Homo sapiens: one gene and its partners. The protein of the gene in region 3 interacts with the protein of the main gene of each other region in a pairwise test. Each region holds a gene or a part of one and is shown on either strand. Other genes may lie near its edges.

The links.
Region 1: the proteins of RUFY1 (region 3) and ITSN2 interact in a two-hybrid assay, tested with the Homo sapiens proteins (one large-scale study listed by BioGRID).
Region 2: the proteins of RUFY1 (region 3) and RAB3IP interact in binary tests that used the Homo sapiens proteins (3 or more experiments, as listed by UniProt).
Region 4: the proteins of RUFY1 (region 3) and GIT2 interact in a two-hybrid assay, tested with the Homo sapiens proteins (one large-scale study listed by BioGRID and IntAct).

What each region holds. Positions count from the first base shown.
Region 1 is NC_000002.12:24,207,037-24,210,536, forward strand, and holds part of ITSN2 (intersectin-2), read right to left. Parts: intron 2,998-3,500; coding exon 2,782-2,997; intron 2,186-2,781; coding exon 2,064-2,185; intron 1,284-2,063; coding exon 1,201-1,283; intron 1-1,200.
Region 2 is NC_000012.12:69,745,360-69,748,859, reverse strand, and holds part of RAB3IP (rab-3A-interacting protein isoform alpha 1), read right to left. Parts: intron 1-3,500. UniProt on the Homo sapiens protein: Guanine nucleotide exchange factor (GEF) which may activate RAB8A and RAB8B. Promotes the exchange of GDP to GTP, converting inactive GDP-bound Rab proteins into their active GTP-bound form.
Region 3 is NC_000005.10:179,595,554-179,599,053, forward strand, and holds part of RUFY1 (RUN and FYVE domain-containing protein 1), read left to right. Parts: intron 1-350; exon of another isoform or gene 351-1,008; coding exon 1,009-1,128; intron 1,129-1,268; exon of another isoform or gene 1,269-1,408; intron 1,409-2,699; exon of another isoform or gene 2,700-2,802; intron 2,803-3,138; coding exon 3,139-3,268; intron 3,269-3,500. UniProt on the Homo sapiens protein: Activating adapter involved in cargo sorting from early/recycling endosomes. Regulates retrieval of proteins from endosomes to the trans-Golgi network through interaction with the dynein-dynactin complex.
Region 4 is NC_000012.12:109,986,369-109,989,868, forward strand, and holds part of GIT2 (ARF GTPase-activating protein GIT2), read right to left. Parts: intron 3,435-3,500; coding exon 3,322-3,434; intron 2,701-3,321; coding exon 2,595-2,700; intron 1-2,594. UniProt on the Homo sapiens protein: GTPase-activating protein for ADP ribosylation factor family members, including ARF1.

The sequences.
Region 1 (3,500 bases), on a different chromosome or scaffold from region 3:
AGGGATGGGGCTGGGTGGCAGGTAGTAGTGGGGATGGGCCCTGAGTGTGGGGTAAGAAATGTGTCGTTAATTTGGGAGGCAATAGGGAAGATACTTCAGCAGGAAGAGGTATAAGAGCAGCTCTGGAAAAAAGAATACTCCAGAAATGAAGAGGATGGGTGGCAGAGAGGAAAGAGAGCCTTGTGCTGCAGCCTGGGTGGGAGATCGGGGGCCTGTGATACGGGGACAGGAAAGGGCGATGGGAAAGTGGCGAGGGAGGAGGACTGCAGTGCAGCTGACCAGGTGTGAGGTGCCAGGGAGGGGCCTGGGTGGCCAGGGACCACACTACTGTCCACAGAGGGTCCCAGGAGGAGCTGCTGCTGGAAGGAGGCTGGTGGTCCCTTGGGAAAAGCCGATGTGTGATGTGGGAGCAGCGGGGCAGGTGGTTCTCTGGAGGGTGCTGTTCAGAGGCGCGGGCTTGGGAGAGTGTGGCTAGCCTGACCCTGAAGCTGGGGGTCGGTGGGGTCCCCGAGGGAGAGCGCTACAGAGGTCGGGGAGAGGCCTGGGCAAGGGTGGAAGAAGAACTGGGAAGGCGGCCATGGGGTCCAGAGGGAAGGCAGCGCCTCAGTGACTGCCATCAGTGCAGGGAGCTGGGGCAGGGAAAGTGAGCTGAGCCACTAACTAGGCCACTGGTGTCACTGGTGGGGACAGGACGTGGACTGAAGTCTGGTGAAGTGAGAAGGGGGAGGAGGCAGGGGCAGAAGGATGGGGAGAGGGCAGACTTAGGGTCTAGGCCCCCTGGCTGCAAAGGGAGAGGGTGGATGGCAGGCCCTAGAGGAGGGTGAGGAGGAGCAGTGGCTGCTCAGGAGCTGAAGGGAGACAGACCACAGGTGTGGCATGTAATGGAGCACCACAGCCCAAGCAGAGGTGAGGTGAGTCATGGAGAGAAAGGAGTGGAGAAGGTGCAGTGGAGTGGGGGGGATAGAGGTGGTGCAGAGAGGGAGGTCCCGGAGCTGGCACTGCCAGCCCGTGTCTGTGTGGGCAGGAGCCCCAGGGAGGTTTGCAGTAGTAGCTTCAAGAGGGGAGGGCTCTCTGGTCTGATCCCGCAGCAGGTCTGGTCTTTCAGACCCGTCCCTATATCATCAGCCTGACTGCAGGAGCAGTGGCCGGCATTCCTAGGGCCCCTGGGGGCTGCGTCCCACCCTCCGGGCACCCTGATACCTTGGTAAGCTTTCTCACGCTTCTTCTTCTCGGTGTCGATGTACTGCTCAGACGCCGCCTTGATCTTCTGCACCCAGGCGGTCCTACGGGAGAAGCAGGGGCAGCCGTTGGCCGCATCCCACCCTCACAGGTCAGCGTGGAGCCCCAGAGCTCTGCACATGTTCTTCAGTCTTTTGCTAACCTCAACTTTCACAAGTTTCCTATCAAAGACCTGATATTAGTCAACTGAAAGATGCTTATGCTAATGGAGTATGAGAGCTGGTAGTGACCCTTCTTGGCTGACCACAAAATGCCAGGCACTCGCAAGGCGCTGGGACCTGGAGACAGATGATGCATTGGCCCCACGGATGATACCTGTCACGAGGGGTTCTAGCGCACACAGAGGAGCAGCAGCACCCCCCGGGTTGGCGCCGCGGAGGCACTGTTGGAGCTGCAGCCTGAAGGAAGCTGGGAACAGCGGGGATGGCACCCACACAAGGGCGCCTGAGGGGCGAAAGTCTGCAGGTGGAGGGACGAGGGCTGAGGCCTGTGGCCCAAGGAGGCCTCGGAAACCAGCAAAGCACAGTGGGCTGTCGCCTGCGGGCAGCCCCTGCAGGGACTGTAGCAGGGCCTCAGGTGCTGATCTGCCATTTGGGAAGGCTGCTGAGTGGTGTGGGGAGAGACTAGAAGCCGGGAAGCATGTTAGGAGGCAGCTGCAGTGACCAAGGCCTACCATGGGACTGGAGCAGAGGGGATGTGTTAAGAGAGGTTCAGGATACAGAATTAGTGGGGCTTAAGCACGGCTGGAGATGGGTTTATGGCAGAGGGAGACGTCCAGGCCTTCTCCCAGAGTTCAAGGCAGGCCACACATGGTCAGGACTGACCTCTCATTAATGTTGTCTGTTCGGAGGGTGTAGACCCGATCAATGTGGGAAATGTGGAAGACAGGCTCATCGCTGGAAGGGTCTGTGGGCAGTTTCACCAAGACTTCATTCAGGAAAATGGGCTGAAAGAATTAGGGCCAAAACACAGGCTGTGAGATGGGCTAGAACACTCCACCCGCCTATGTCCAGAGAGAGTTCTGTTTGTTCTGAAGAGCCTTGTTGAGAAGGAGAAAGGGGTCTAGCGTCTAAGGTCTTCTACACAGAACAAATGAAACCTCCATTTGTAAGAACAATGAAGCCTCCATTTCTGGAAAAGTCATTATCGAGGTGGGTCAGGTGTTGGGACTGGGTGGGGACAGGAGCTCCAAGCGCCCATGACGGCTGGTGCAAAAGGCTCTCTGCTAGCAACGCTGGTGCTGTGCTGGGGCTCGGCTTACAGAGACCCAATGCTGAATGCACACAGTGGTGAGCCCAGGTGTCACGCTGGCCAGGAGGAAGCCAGAATCTCAGCTGGAATCTGGCTGATGGCCTGTGGCAGGTGGGGAGTGCCCAGCTGCATGGGGCCCTTCCCGTGGGAAGCAGCAAAGGAAGCACGAGCGATCTGGAACCAGGTGAGGAGGGTCCCGTAAGGCCAGCTCAGGGTCTGCCAGGAAGGCCTTAAGATAGAGGCAACACCTCATTAGGCCCCTGATGCTACCCCCAGACGCGTGATACTCACCGTTTTATACATTTTGAATTGAGCATTGGACTTCGAGCTGAAAAGTTTCTCAGAGCCAGAGGAAACAGCAAACTGCTTGACCATGTAGGTAAGAAGCAGGAAGTCATTGAAGAGGAATCCGTGCAGTTCCTTGTTGCTCTTGGTCTTGTATAATTTCCCACTGTGTAAGAGCTTCCGGGGCCCCAGGCAGTTGGTGAGAGAGTTGAAAATAAGTTGCTTAAAGAGAAAGAAAATTTCACTTTTTAAATCCCGGCACAAACCATCCAGTGCCCCTGAGAGGCCAGTGCCCTGGGCCTGAGGATACTGTGGTGGAGTTTTCTAGGTGGGAATGTGGCTAGAATCATTCACTTTGCATGAAAGATCCTTAAATACATTACTCTTCAGAGTCCAAACTGGCCCAGTGAAAATCATTACTTCTAGCCACAGAACACTGATTCTACCAGCTGAATTCAAAGAACTCAAAACAAAAAATCCCAGTGTTCTCTCCTTAGGAGAAAGGAAGATGACAATCCAAGAAGGAATGCCCTTCATGCCTGCAATCCCAGCACTGTTGGGAGACAGAGGCGGGAGGATCACTTGACGCCAGGAGTTCAAGACCAGCCTGGCCAACATGGTGAAACCCCAGCTCTACTAAAAATACGAAAATTAGCTGGGCATCGTAGCAGATGCCTGTAGTCCCAGCTACTTGGGAGATGGAGGCCAGAGAATCGCTCCAACCC
Region 2 (3,500 bases), on a different chromosome or scaffold from region 3:
ATCTTTTGCCCTTTAAATACATAGAAGCTTTAAGATTTATTTCACATACGTCTTTATAAGAGTAAAATAAACTACTATTTTTAAGCAGTAGTATCTTTCGCATTAAGCAATGAGTGATTCAAAAAGAACTAATTTCAACTGATTATCCCAATTAGTAAATTAAACTTGTCAAGGATCATGACCAATATGTAAAAAAGATGATCACATTAAATTCTTATGGGTGAATCACCAACACAACTTGGCTGGCCTTATTACTGAGCTCCAGGTAATAAAGCAGACTGCAGACCACAAGAAAAAGTTGATCAAAACAATTTGCTTCTGATCCCTAATATGCATTTCCTGTTAATTTTTCTTTCTCGAAATCAGTACTATCACAGCAAAAACAACAGCCAATCTTTACTGAAGGTTAACTATGTTGTCAGATAGTGGTGCTAAGAATTTCATACATATTAACTCATTTAATAAATGCCTAGAAAGATCCTAATAACTTATGAAATTTACTTTTTCTAATTAAAGTGAATTTTTAAAATGTTTCTTGAAAACAAAAGCCATCCCTAGGACAACTCAAGAAATCAGAATTAATGGGAAAATATTTTCAATGAAACATCTGAAGAACATGAATAAAATGCATATACATATTTTAAATGAAATCTAGCAACTTGATTTATATCAGTAGTCCAAAAGAAAAAATAAAATCCATTTTTCCACAAAAAGCACATTCCCCTAATTTGGACTTACCTTGACAAATGGGAAACATAGAATTTTAATTTTAGAAAAAAAAAAAAAAACTAAAGCTGTGATTTTTATCTTTTTTCATATCAATTTAATATATGTGAAAATTAAATAATTTGAATTCTATGTTTACTAAAATTCCTCAAAGCACTACACTCAGAAAGTAAATCATTTCCAACAAAGGAGGTAATATGGCAACACAGCAGAGTAGAAGCATCAGTACCTGAAGAAGAAAGCTAAGGCTCCTGATCAAGCTCTGAGATCTATCTATGAACCTGGGCAGGTAACTTATCTGAGCCCAAATATCTTCATCTATTTCAGTGTAGAATTGGATCAAATAATCCTGGTAGATAAAGGAATGTACTTGTCTACTAGAAGAAAAGCCAACAGGGTAACTTAACCAGTATTCACTATCTCATGAAATAGCTTGTACTCTGGAATCAGTCTCAAATCTTGGCTTCACCAGTTACTAATAAAGTGACCTGAAGATCTAAGTCTCAATTTCTCATCTAAAAATGGAGATGACAGGTCAGGCACAGTGGTTCTTGTAATCTCAGAACTTTGGAAGGCCAAGACAGGACGGTTGCTTGTGCCCAAGATGTTTAAGCAACAACCAAAAGCAACATAGCGAGACCCCATCTCTACAAAAAATTTAAAAATTAGCAGAGTGTGGTGGCATACGCCTGTGGTCCCAGCTACTCCTGAGCCAGGAAGGTTGAGGCTATAGCGAACTGTGATTGTGCCACTGCACTCCAGCCTGAGCAACAGAGAAAGATCCTCTCTCTCTCTCTCTCTCACACACACACACACACACACACACACACACACACACACGAAAGGGCAAGGGGAGAAAACTGTACCTATCTCCTAAGGTAGTCATGAGAATTAAAGAGCTTAGCACCATATCTGGCACTTACCAATTAAGACTGGCTCTTACTATTATAATCATCTCTAGGACATTTCCTAATACTGGCCAAATATTTTGATCATATTGTATCAGCACAAGCACTATCACTAAGAACAAAAAGCAATGATTGTTGAGTTTGGGTTTAAAAGCTTATTGTTTTGAGTGATTTTCCTCAAAAAAAGTAAACATCTATAAATCCTGTAGTATAATTTTGTTTTACTTGTATTATCACAATAATAGAAATTAAATATTCCAAGACATGTCAAAAGAAAAGGTTTAAGATTATGTAAGCACTATTTTCCTCTTTCAATTTATTCACAGACAGTTGTGGAAGGGGGGCAGGGAGGAAAGTCCAGATGCTTTTTAAATTCCCAAATGACTTCTTAATTTAACATGAATTATGAAAGAAACAGTTTCTGAGATTAAAAATGAGACTGCTACTTCAATAGCATATAATGAATTGAACTGTTATAAATTCCATGAATTAGTTACAAATTCCATCACTTCTTTAAAAACCTTCAACATTTATTATACATATTAAATACATTTATTTCATACATATATGTGATAAATTATATTTATTCTTGTTGGAATGGAAGGATGATTGCCAGCTTCAACACCTCCGGGCAAATCCTGATACTAAGTGCTAAGAATACAGATACAAATGGACCAAAGAGATGGCACACAGCCTCTACGAGCCACGGCATGATTATTCTGAGGGTTGTGGGGAGGGAAGAGGGAAGAGGAGAATGTCTCAAAGAGAAGTAAAATATAAGTCAGATTTTCAGTGCTGAATACAAGTCCAGTAGATGGGCAAGGGGAATAGGATAGGACAGTCAGGGAATAAGGGTCTGGCACTAACAAAACTAACAAAGGAGACAGTAACAGAAAAGCAGGCTGGAGAGGCAGACTGTGACAGACCATTAAAAGCCTTCTTTAAAAGAGAAAATGTTGCTTAAAGTTTATCCTGAAGAGATGGTGAGATCTACATTTTAGAAAGTATAGATGTATTGTAATGTAGTCATTTAAAAATGACTCCCAAGGCAATGAGAACTTCACTGGAGACTAGAGGCTGGTTAAACGATTACTGTCTGATCTAATGCCAAGGTCATGCACTGGGAATGAGGGGATGGAGGCATATATACGTATGGAAAACATTCAGAACAGCTTCATTTATATTTATTCACAAACACACAATTATTCCAGTTAATCTTCAGAGCATTCATTTGAAATGGTTCTTATCCCTACTTTACAGATATATAAAAAAAAGAGGCTGAGAGAGATTAATTTTGTCAAATACACAAAAAGTAACAGAGCTAGTATTCAAACTCTGGTGTGTCTGACTCTAACACCTAACTCCACTACATCTGAGATACACTTAGAAGCTGAAATGGATAGGGAGTAGGGAGATGGGAATAAAGGTTAAAGCACAGCAAAGGATCTCTAAGAAGTGAACAATCCTGGGTGCAGTAAACCACCATGGCACGTGTATACCTATGTAACAAACCTGCATGTTCTGCACATGGTATCCCAGAACTTAAAGTTTAAAAAAAAAGAAGTGAACAATCCAAACAGAATAATAATGTTTAATCTCTGAACCCTTCTCTTACTTTCACAAAGACAAAACTGAAGTTTCTCTAAAGCACTGCTATTGAAATGAGCATTTGCTATTGCTTTGTGTTCTATTATTTTCCCCTATATTATTTTTGTTATCATTTCCTCCTCTGTTTTGTTACTATGCCAGAATTTAATACTTATTCAGCTCCTTACAGGACTTGGAAAAAAAAAAACAGCACATAAATCAAAATAAACAGAAACTTGAATTTACTATAGTACCCATATTCCTGTGTATTTTTTTAAA
Region 3 (3,500 bases):
TTTTTTTTTTTTTTTGAGCCAGAGTTTCGCTCTCATTGCCCAGGCTAGAGTGCAATGGTGCGATCTCAGCTCACCGCAATCTCTACCTCCCAGGTTCAAGCAATTCTCCTGCCTCAGCCTCCCAAGTAGCTGGGATTACAGGTGCCTGCCACCATGCCCGGCTAATTTTGTATTTTTGTAGAGATGGGGTTTCTCCATATTGATCAGGCTGGTCTCGAACTCCCGACCTCAGGTGATCTGCCCACCTAGGCCTCCCAAAGTGCTGGGATTATAGGCATGAGCCACCACACCTGGCCAGCTACCGTTTCTTTAATGACAATACCAAGTGCTGATGAGGACACGGAGCTAATGGATCTCTCATACTTTATTGGTAGGAATGCAAAATGGTGCAACCACTCAGGAAAACAGTTTCTCAAGAAGCTAAACGTCCTCTTACCATATGATCCAAATAGAAATGAAACTTATGTCTACACCAAAACTAGTACATATGTTTATAGCAGCTCCGTTCATAACTGCCAAAAGCTAGAAGCAATCCCAATGTTCTGCATTGGGTGATGGATAAACAAAGTGGTACGTCTGTGCGGTGAAGTATGACTCAGCCGTAGAAAGGAATGAACCACTGCCCTTTCAGGACGTTCAGAGAGGAAACAAAAGGCATGAACCATTGATACACATGGAAACTTGGATTGATCTCCAAGACATTATTCTGAGAAAAAGTCAGTCTCAAGGTTATATAATGTATAATTACATTGAGATTACATTCTCAAAAAGCCAAAGCCATATTGTTGCAGGACAGATGAGTGGTTGCCAGGGGCTGAGGTGGGGAGTTTTGGGAGTGGTGGGACCGTCCTGTATTCTGATTGTGGTGGAGCTGAATCTCCACGTGTTAAAACTCACAAGAGTTAATTTTACTGTATGGTAATTTTAAAAATGAATTTCAGCCAGCAAAAGTCATCCTTTCCTTACAAAGATTTGCTTCATTTGCACTCTTGCTGGTGTCGCATCCAGGTTGCAGCACTCGGAGCGGGCGAGGCAGGGGGCTGAGGAGCGGAGCCACAAGCTGCAGCAGGAGCTGGGCGGGAGGATCGGCGCCCTGCAGCTGCAGCTCTCCCAGCTGCACGAGCAATGGTAGGGGCCCTGCAGGGAGCCTGGGCTGGGGTGTGGCTCAGGAGGGACTGGGAAGAACTGGGGACAGGTGGTATCCTGCTTCAGCACGAACGGGAGGAGGGGGGGCGGGGGGGCAGGTGGTATCCTGCTTCACCACTCACCCCTGCAGGGTTCGTATGTTATCCCTAGGGAGCTCCCTCCCCACAGGGCTCCTCACGTGGTCCAGCTCGCCTCCAGAAGATCTGGCCACTCTCAAACCATGGTACCAGGTCACAGCCTGTATCACCCTTAACCACCCTTTCTAAAAAGAAACAGCTTTGTCAGTGTTGAACAGAAAGTCACCTTTCACCTAGCCTTTGCTGATGCAAGCTTCATATAATTTTGTGCACAGTTCATCTACAGATTTTTTATTTTTTAAGTCTCACTCTGTCATCCAGGCTGGAGTGCAGTGGTGCAGTCTCAGCTCACTGCAACCCCCACCTCCTGGGCTCAAGCGATTCTTGTGCCTCAGCCTCCTGAGTAGCTGGGACTACAGGTGTACATCAACACACCCGGCTAATTTTTGTGTTTGTGTTTTGTTTTGTTTTTTTTTTGAGACCGAGTCTCACTCTCTTGCCCAGGCTGGAGTGCGGTGGCGCGATCTCGGCTCACTGCAACCTCTGCCTCCCGGGTTCACGCCATTCTCCTGCCTCAGCCTCCCGAGCAGCTGGGACTACAGGCATCAGCCACCACACCTGGCTAATTTTTTGTATTTTTAGTAGAGACGGGGTTTCACTGTGTTAACCCAGGATGGTCTCGATCTCCTCACCTCGTGATCCTCCCATCTCGGCCTCCCAAAGTGCTGGGATTACAGGCGTGAGCCACTGCGCCCAGCCTAATTTTTGTATTTTTATTAGAGACAGGGTTTTGCCATGTTGGCCAGGCTGGTCTCAATCTTCTGGCCTCAAGTGATCCACCCGTCTCGGCCTCCCAGAATGCTAGGATTACAAGTGTGAACCACCGTGCCTGGCCTATAGATTTTTTGAGATAATATATATGCCAAGTTAAAAGCCTGATGTTGAGAGAAGAGAGAAGAGACATCTTTATTCCCACAAAGAGAGAGCAGACTCCAGGCGGTCCAGCAGTGCCCCCAGGGCCACTCAGCTGGTAAAGGGCAGAGTCAGCTTCAGGCTGAGGCTCCCTCCTGGCCTTCTCCCTCCAGGATCCTTCATTGTCAGTCTGGCTGTAGGTTGTAGAAAGCAGAATGAGGCCGGGCGCGGTGGCTCACGCCCATAATCCCAGCACTTTTGGGAGGCCGAGGCAGGGAGATCACGAGGTCAGGAGTTCAAGACCAGCCTGGCCAACATGGTGAAACGTCATCTCTACTAAAAATACAAAAAATTAGCTGGGCGTGGTGGCGTGTGCCTGTAATCCCAGCTACTAGGGAGGCTGAGGCAGGAGACTAGCTTGAACCCAGGAGGCAGAGGTTGCAGTGAGCCAAGATTGTGCCACTGCACTCCAGCCTGGGCGACAGAGCGAGACTCCGTCTCAAAAAAAAACAAAAAGCAGAATGAATTGGCCAGTGAGGTGGCTCATGCCTGTAATCTCTGCACCTTGGGAAGCTGTGGCGGGAGGATCACTTGAGCCCAGGAGGTCGAGGCTGCAGTGAGCTGAGGTTGCGCCACTGCACTCCAGCTGGGGTGACAGAGCTAGACCCTGTCTCAAAAAAAGAAAAGAACGAATTTTGAGCTTCCTTTCCTCAGGTCTCCATGTCGGGAGGGTTCTGCTTATGTGGTCTAAGTGTTCTAGAGCTCTCTTCCTTCTCCCCTGCGTAAGTGTCAAGTGTGTGCCTGCAGGCTTTTCTCTCCCTGGTTCCTGCTCTTTCTTGTGGAAGGGCAGGTGACCCTGGAGGAGAGGGAAGCGTTGCCGAAGGCTTTAGATGCTCAAGAGGCAATTCAGAGACTTCCCTGTTTCCTGGGCGGTGAATTGGGTTGTGAATCTTCCGTGAAAGTCTCCCACTGAGACTAACTCAAGTTCATTTTGGGAAAACAGCTCAAGCCTGGAGAAAGAATTGAAATCAGAAAAAGAGCAAAGACAGGCTCTTCAGCGCGAATTACAGCACGAGAAAGACACTTCCTCTCTACTCAGGATGGAGCTGCAACAAGTGGAAGGACTGAAAAAGGTGAGGTGGGCCATCCCGGGAGAGGAGAGCCTCTGGCAGCCTCCAGAAACCCCTAACATGCTCCGGGCAGGCTCCTCTCCCCGCACCCTTTGTGTGGGGGCCAGGCGGCTCCAGGGTGTGGGGAGGCTGTTAGGGAGCTCCTGTTTTAGGAGCATAAGACAAAGACAAATCATAAACCACTAAGCCTGCTGGCAGCTCAGATAGAGGCAAGTGCCATGAAGAGAATAAAGCA
Region 4 (3,500 bases), on a different chromosome or scaffold from region 3:
GGCCTGTAGTCCCGGCACTTTGGGAAGCTGAAACAGGCGGATCATGAGGTTAGGAGTTCGAGACCAGCCTGGCCAACGTGGTGAAACCCCGTCTCTACTAAAGATACAAAAAATGGCCGGGCGTGGTGGCTTACGCCTGTAATCCCAGCACTTTGGGAGGCCGAGGTGGGCGGATCACGAGGTCAGGAAATCGGGACCATCCTGGTTAACACAGTAAAACCTCGTCTCTACTAAAAATACAAAAAAATTAGCCGGGTGTGGTGGCGGACGCCTGTAGTCCCAGCTACTCAGGAGGCTGAGGCAGGAGAATGGCATGAACCCGGGAGGCGGAGCTTGAAGTGAGCCAAGATTGCGCCACTGCACTCCAGCCTGGGCCACAGAGCAAGACTCCGTCTCAAAAACAAACAAACAAACAAACAAACAAAAAAAAACCAAAAGATTAGCTGGGCCTGGTGGCACGTGCCTGTAATCCCAGCTACTTGGGAGGCTGAGGCAGGAGAATCACTTGAACCTGGGAGGCGGAGGTTGTAGTGAGCCAAGATCATGCCATTGCACTACAGCCTGGACTACAGAGCGAGACTCTGTCTCAAAAAAATAAAAAATAAAAAATAAAAATAAAAATAAAAAAATTAACCCATCATGATCAAGTAGGCTTTTTTGCTGAGATTCAAGGCTGGCTCAACATACACAAATCAATAAATGTAATTTGCCACATCAATAGAAGTAAAAGCAGGCCAGGCGCGGTGGCTCCTGCCTGTAATCCCAGTACTTTGGGAGGCCGAGGCGGGAGGATCACGAGGTCAGGAGATCGAGACCATCCTGGCTAACATGGTGAAACCCTGTCTCTACTAAAAATACAAAAAAAATTAGCCGGGTGTGGTGGTGGGCACCTGTAGTCCCAGCTACTTGGGAGGCTGAGGCAGGAGAATGGCATGAACCTGGGAGGCAGAACTTGCAGTGAGCTGAGATCGCACCACTGCACTCCAGCTTGGGCGACTGAGCAAGACTCTATCTCAAAAATAAATAAAAATAAATAAATAAATAAATAAATAAATAGAAGCAAAAGCAAAAACCACATGATCATCTCAATAGATGCAGAAAATGTTTTCTTTTTTTGAGACAGGGTCTTGCTCTGTTGTCCAAGCTGGAGTGCCATGGTGTAATCTCAGCTCACTGCAACCTCCACCTCCTGGGCTCAAGTCATCCTCCAACCTCAGCCTCCCAGGTAGCTGGTACTACAGGCACGGCCACCATACCCGGCTAAAATTGTTATATTCTTTGTAGAGACGGGGTTTCGCCATGTTGCCCAGGCTGGTCTTGAACTTCTGAGCCCAAGTGATCTGCCAGTCTCAGTCTCCCAAAGTGCTGGGATTACAGGAGTGAGCCATCGCACCCGGCCAAAAAGTAATAAAAAAAGTTCTGAATAAGTAAGTTCTCATGCTCTGTGTGAGTAAGCATTTATCCAAGGCAGCGCTTTGAAAATATGCACATTTCTTACAGCATCTCTCAAAAACATGCGAAGGCCCACATAAAGAAAACCACCTCACTCGTTTTACAAGTATCATAAACCATTCTGTGTACTATAGCTTTGAGTCACACATTGCTTTCTGAAGATCATACTTACTGTTCAACCTGGAAACCTGAAGAAGTCCCCTTCCTTTAGTACTTTTTCTAGTCCTTATTAAAAAGAAACAATTGTCCTATAATCTTTCTAGTCCCTTCTAGAAACAACTCTGAGATGGTTCCTATTTCAAAGTTAAACAAACAAAAAACTTATCAAAATATAATTTAAAAGCCATATTGGAAAAACACAAACAGCCTTCCAGAGACTTACTTTTCCTCTTTGCCCTGAACCTCCACTATATGAATGGCTGCCATTTGAATTCAGATTAAAGACGAAACCGACTGACAAAAAAGCTATTAATTAATGAATGTGCAGAAATGAGTTTTTGTTTTTCTTTCTTTAAAAACTTTTTTCAGCCTGGGCAACATAGCAAGAACCCGTCTCTACAAAAAATAAAAAATATTAGCTGGGTATGGTAATGCGCCTGTAGTTCCAGCTACTCGGGAGGCTGAGGTGGAAGGATTGCTAGAGCCTGGATGGTCAAGGCTGCAGTGAACCGTGATTGCACCACTGCACTCCAGCCTGGGCAACAGAGCAAGACCCTGTCTCAAAAAAAACAAACGAAAAACAAAAAAACCCTGGCCGGGTGCAGTGGCTCACGCTTGCAATCCCAACACTAGGAGGCCGAGGCAGACGGATCACCTGAGCTCAGGAGTTCGAAACCAGCCTGGCCAACATGGTGAAACCCCGTCTCTACTAAAAATACAAAAATTAGCTGGGCATGGTGGCATGCGCCTGTAATCCCAGCTACCTAGGAGGCTGAGGCAGGAGAATCGCTGGAACCCGGGAGGCAGAGGCTGCAGGGAGCCAAGATCGCGCCACTGTACTCCCGCCTGGGTAACAGAGACTCTGTCTCAAAAAAAAAAAAAAAAAAAAAAAGCCCACAACCAGACTTTTTTTTCGTTTTTTCAAATAAAACAATATGCTGTCTCAGCCCGCTCTTTTAGGGATTTTAAAAGGTGTGACCCACCTTGCTAAGATCTTTGGCAGTCACACTATCGTCATCCCGGCAGGGCAAGCGATGGACGAACGCTAACATCTGATACTTGGCTCTGATGAATTCCGCTTTATTGGGACTGGTTCAAAAACAAAAAAGAAAACAGTTCACTCGTTCAGATACAACAATCCCCATTCTTTGTACTGTAAAAAGAAGAGGAAGTGACCCACATCCCCCACTTGAGAATAAAATGAACAATGCTCAAGTAAGTTTCAGCAAGGTTTAAGACCTGCAGTTTGAAAACATACATTAGTTATTATAATGGCTGGGACTCCAGAGTACCTGCTTTTTATAGTAGCCCTCTTCTCTGTGTAATTGTCTGAACTGATTTAGCAACTTTGGGAGAAAGCAGCATTTAGTCCCATCTTATAAGTGAGGCAACAGGCAGACGGGTGCCCAGACCTAGATTTCTGGTCTGATCGCCTCTTATTTGAGTATAAGTTTAAATCTGATTACATTTACAGACTCCAAGCCATGGTTTCCAACTGAGGAAGCCACTTACTCCTGCTGGGTGGCCATGCTAAACAGATGGTCCTGCCCCACCCCATTCTGCATTTCTAATAGCAAAGAACCTGATGCACAACTAGGGTAACCCCCTCCTCTGCTGCCCTTGCGGAGACTGACCAAAAATAGCTGCACTCCTTTCAGTGGGCCCCATTTGTTATGAAGAAATAAAAGTATTTATAAACATTCCACTCACTGTACTTTATCCTGTGGATTAGCTTTACGTCTTCCACTCATAATAGACGCAGGGTCCAGCAAAGAATGCTCCCATATAGAGTTAGCACCGTTATTATACAAGGTCTCAACCATCTAAAACCAAGCAGGATGACATAAGACTTTAATTTCTTTTCACAAATATTCAATGGGGATCAGTGA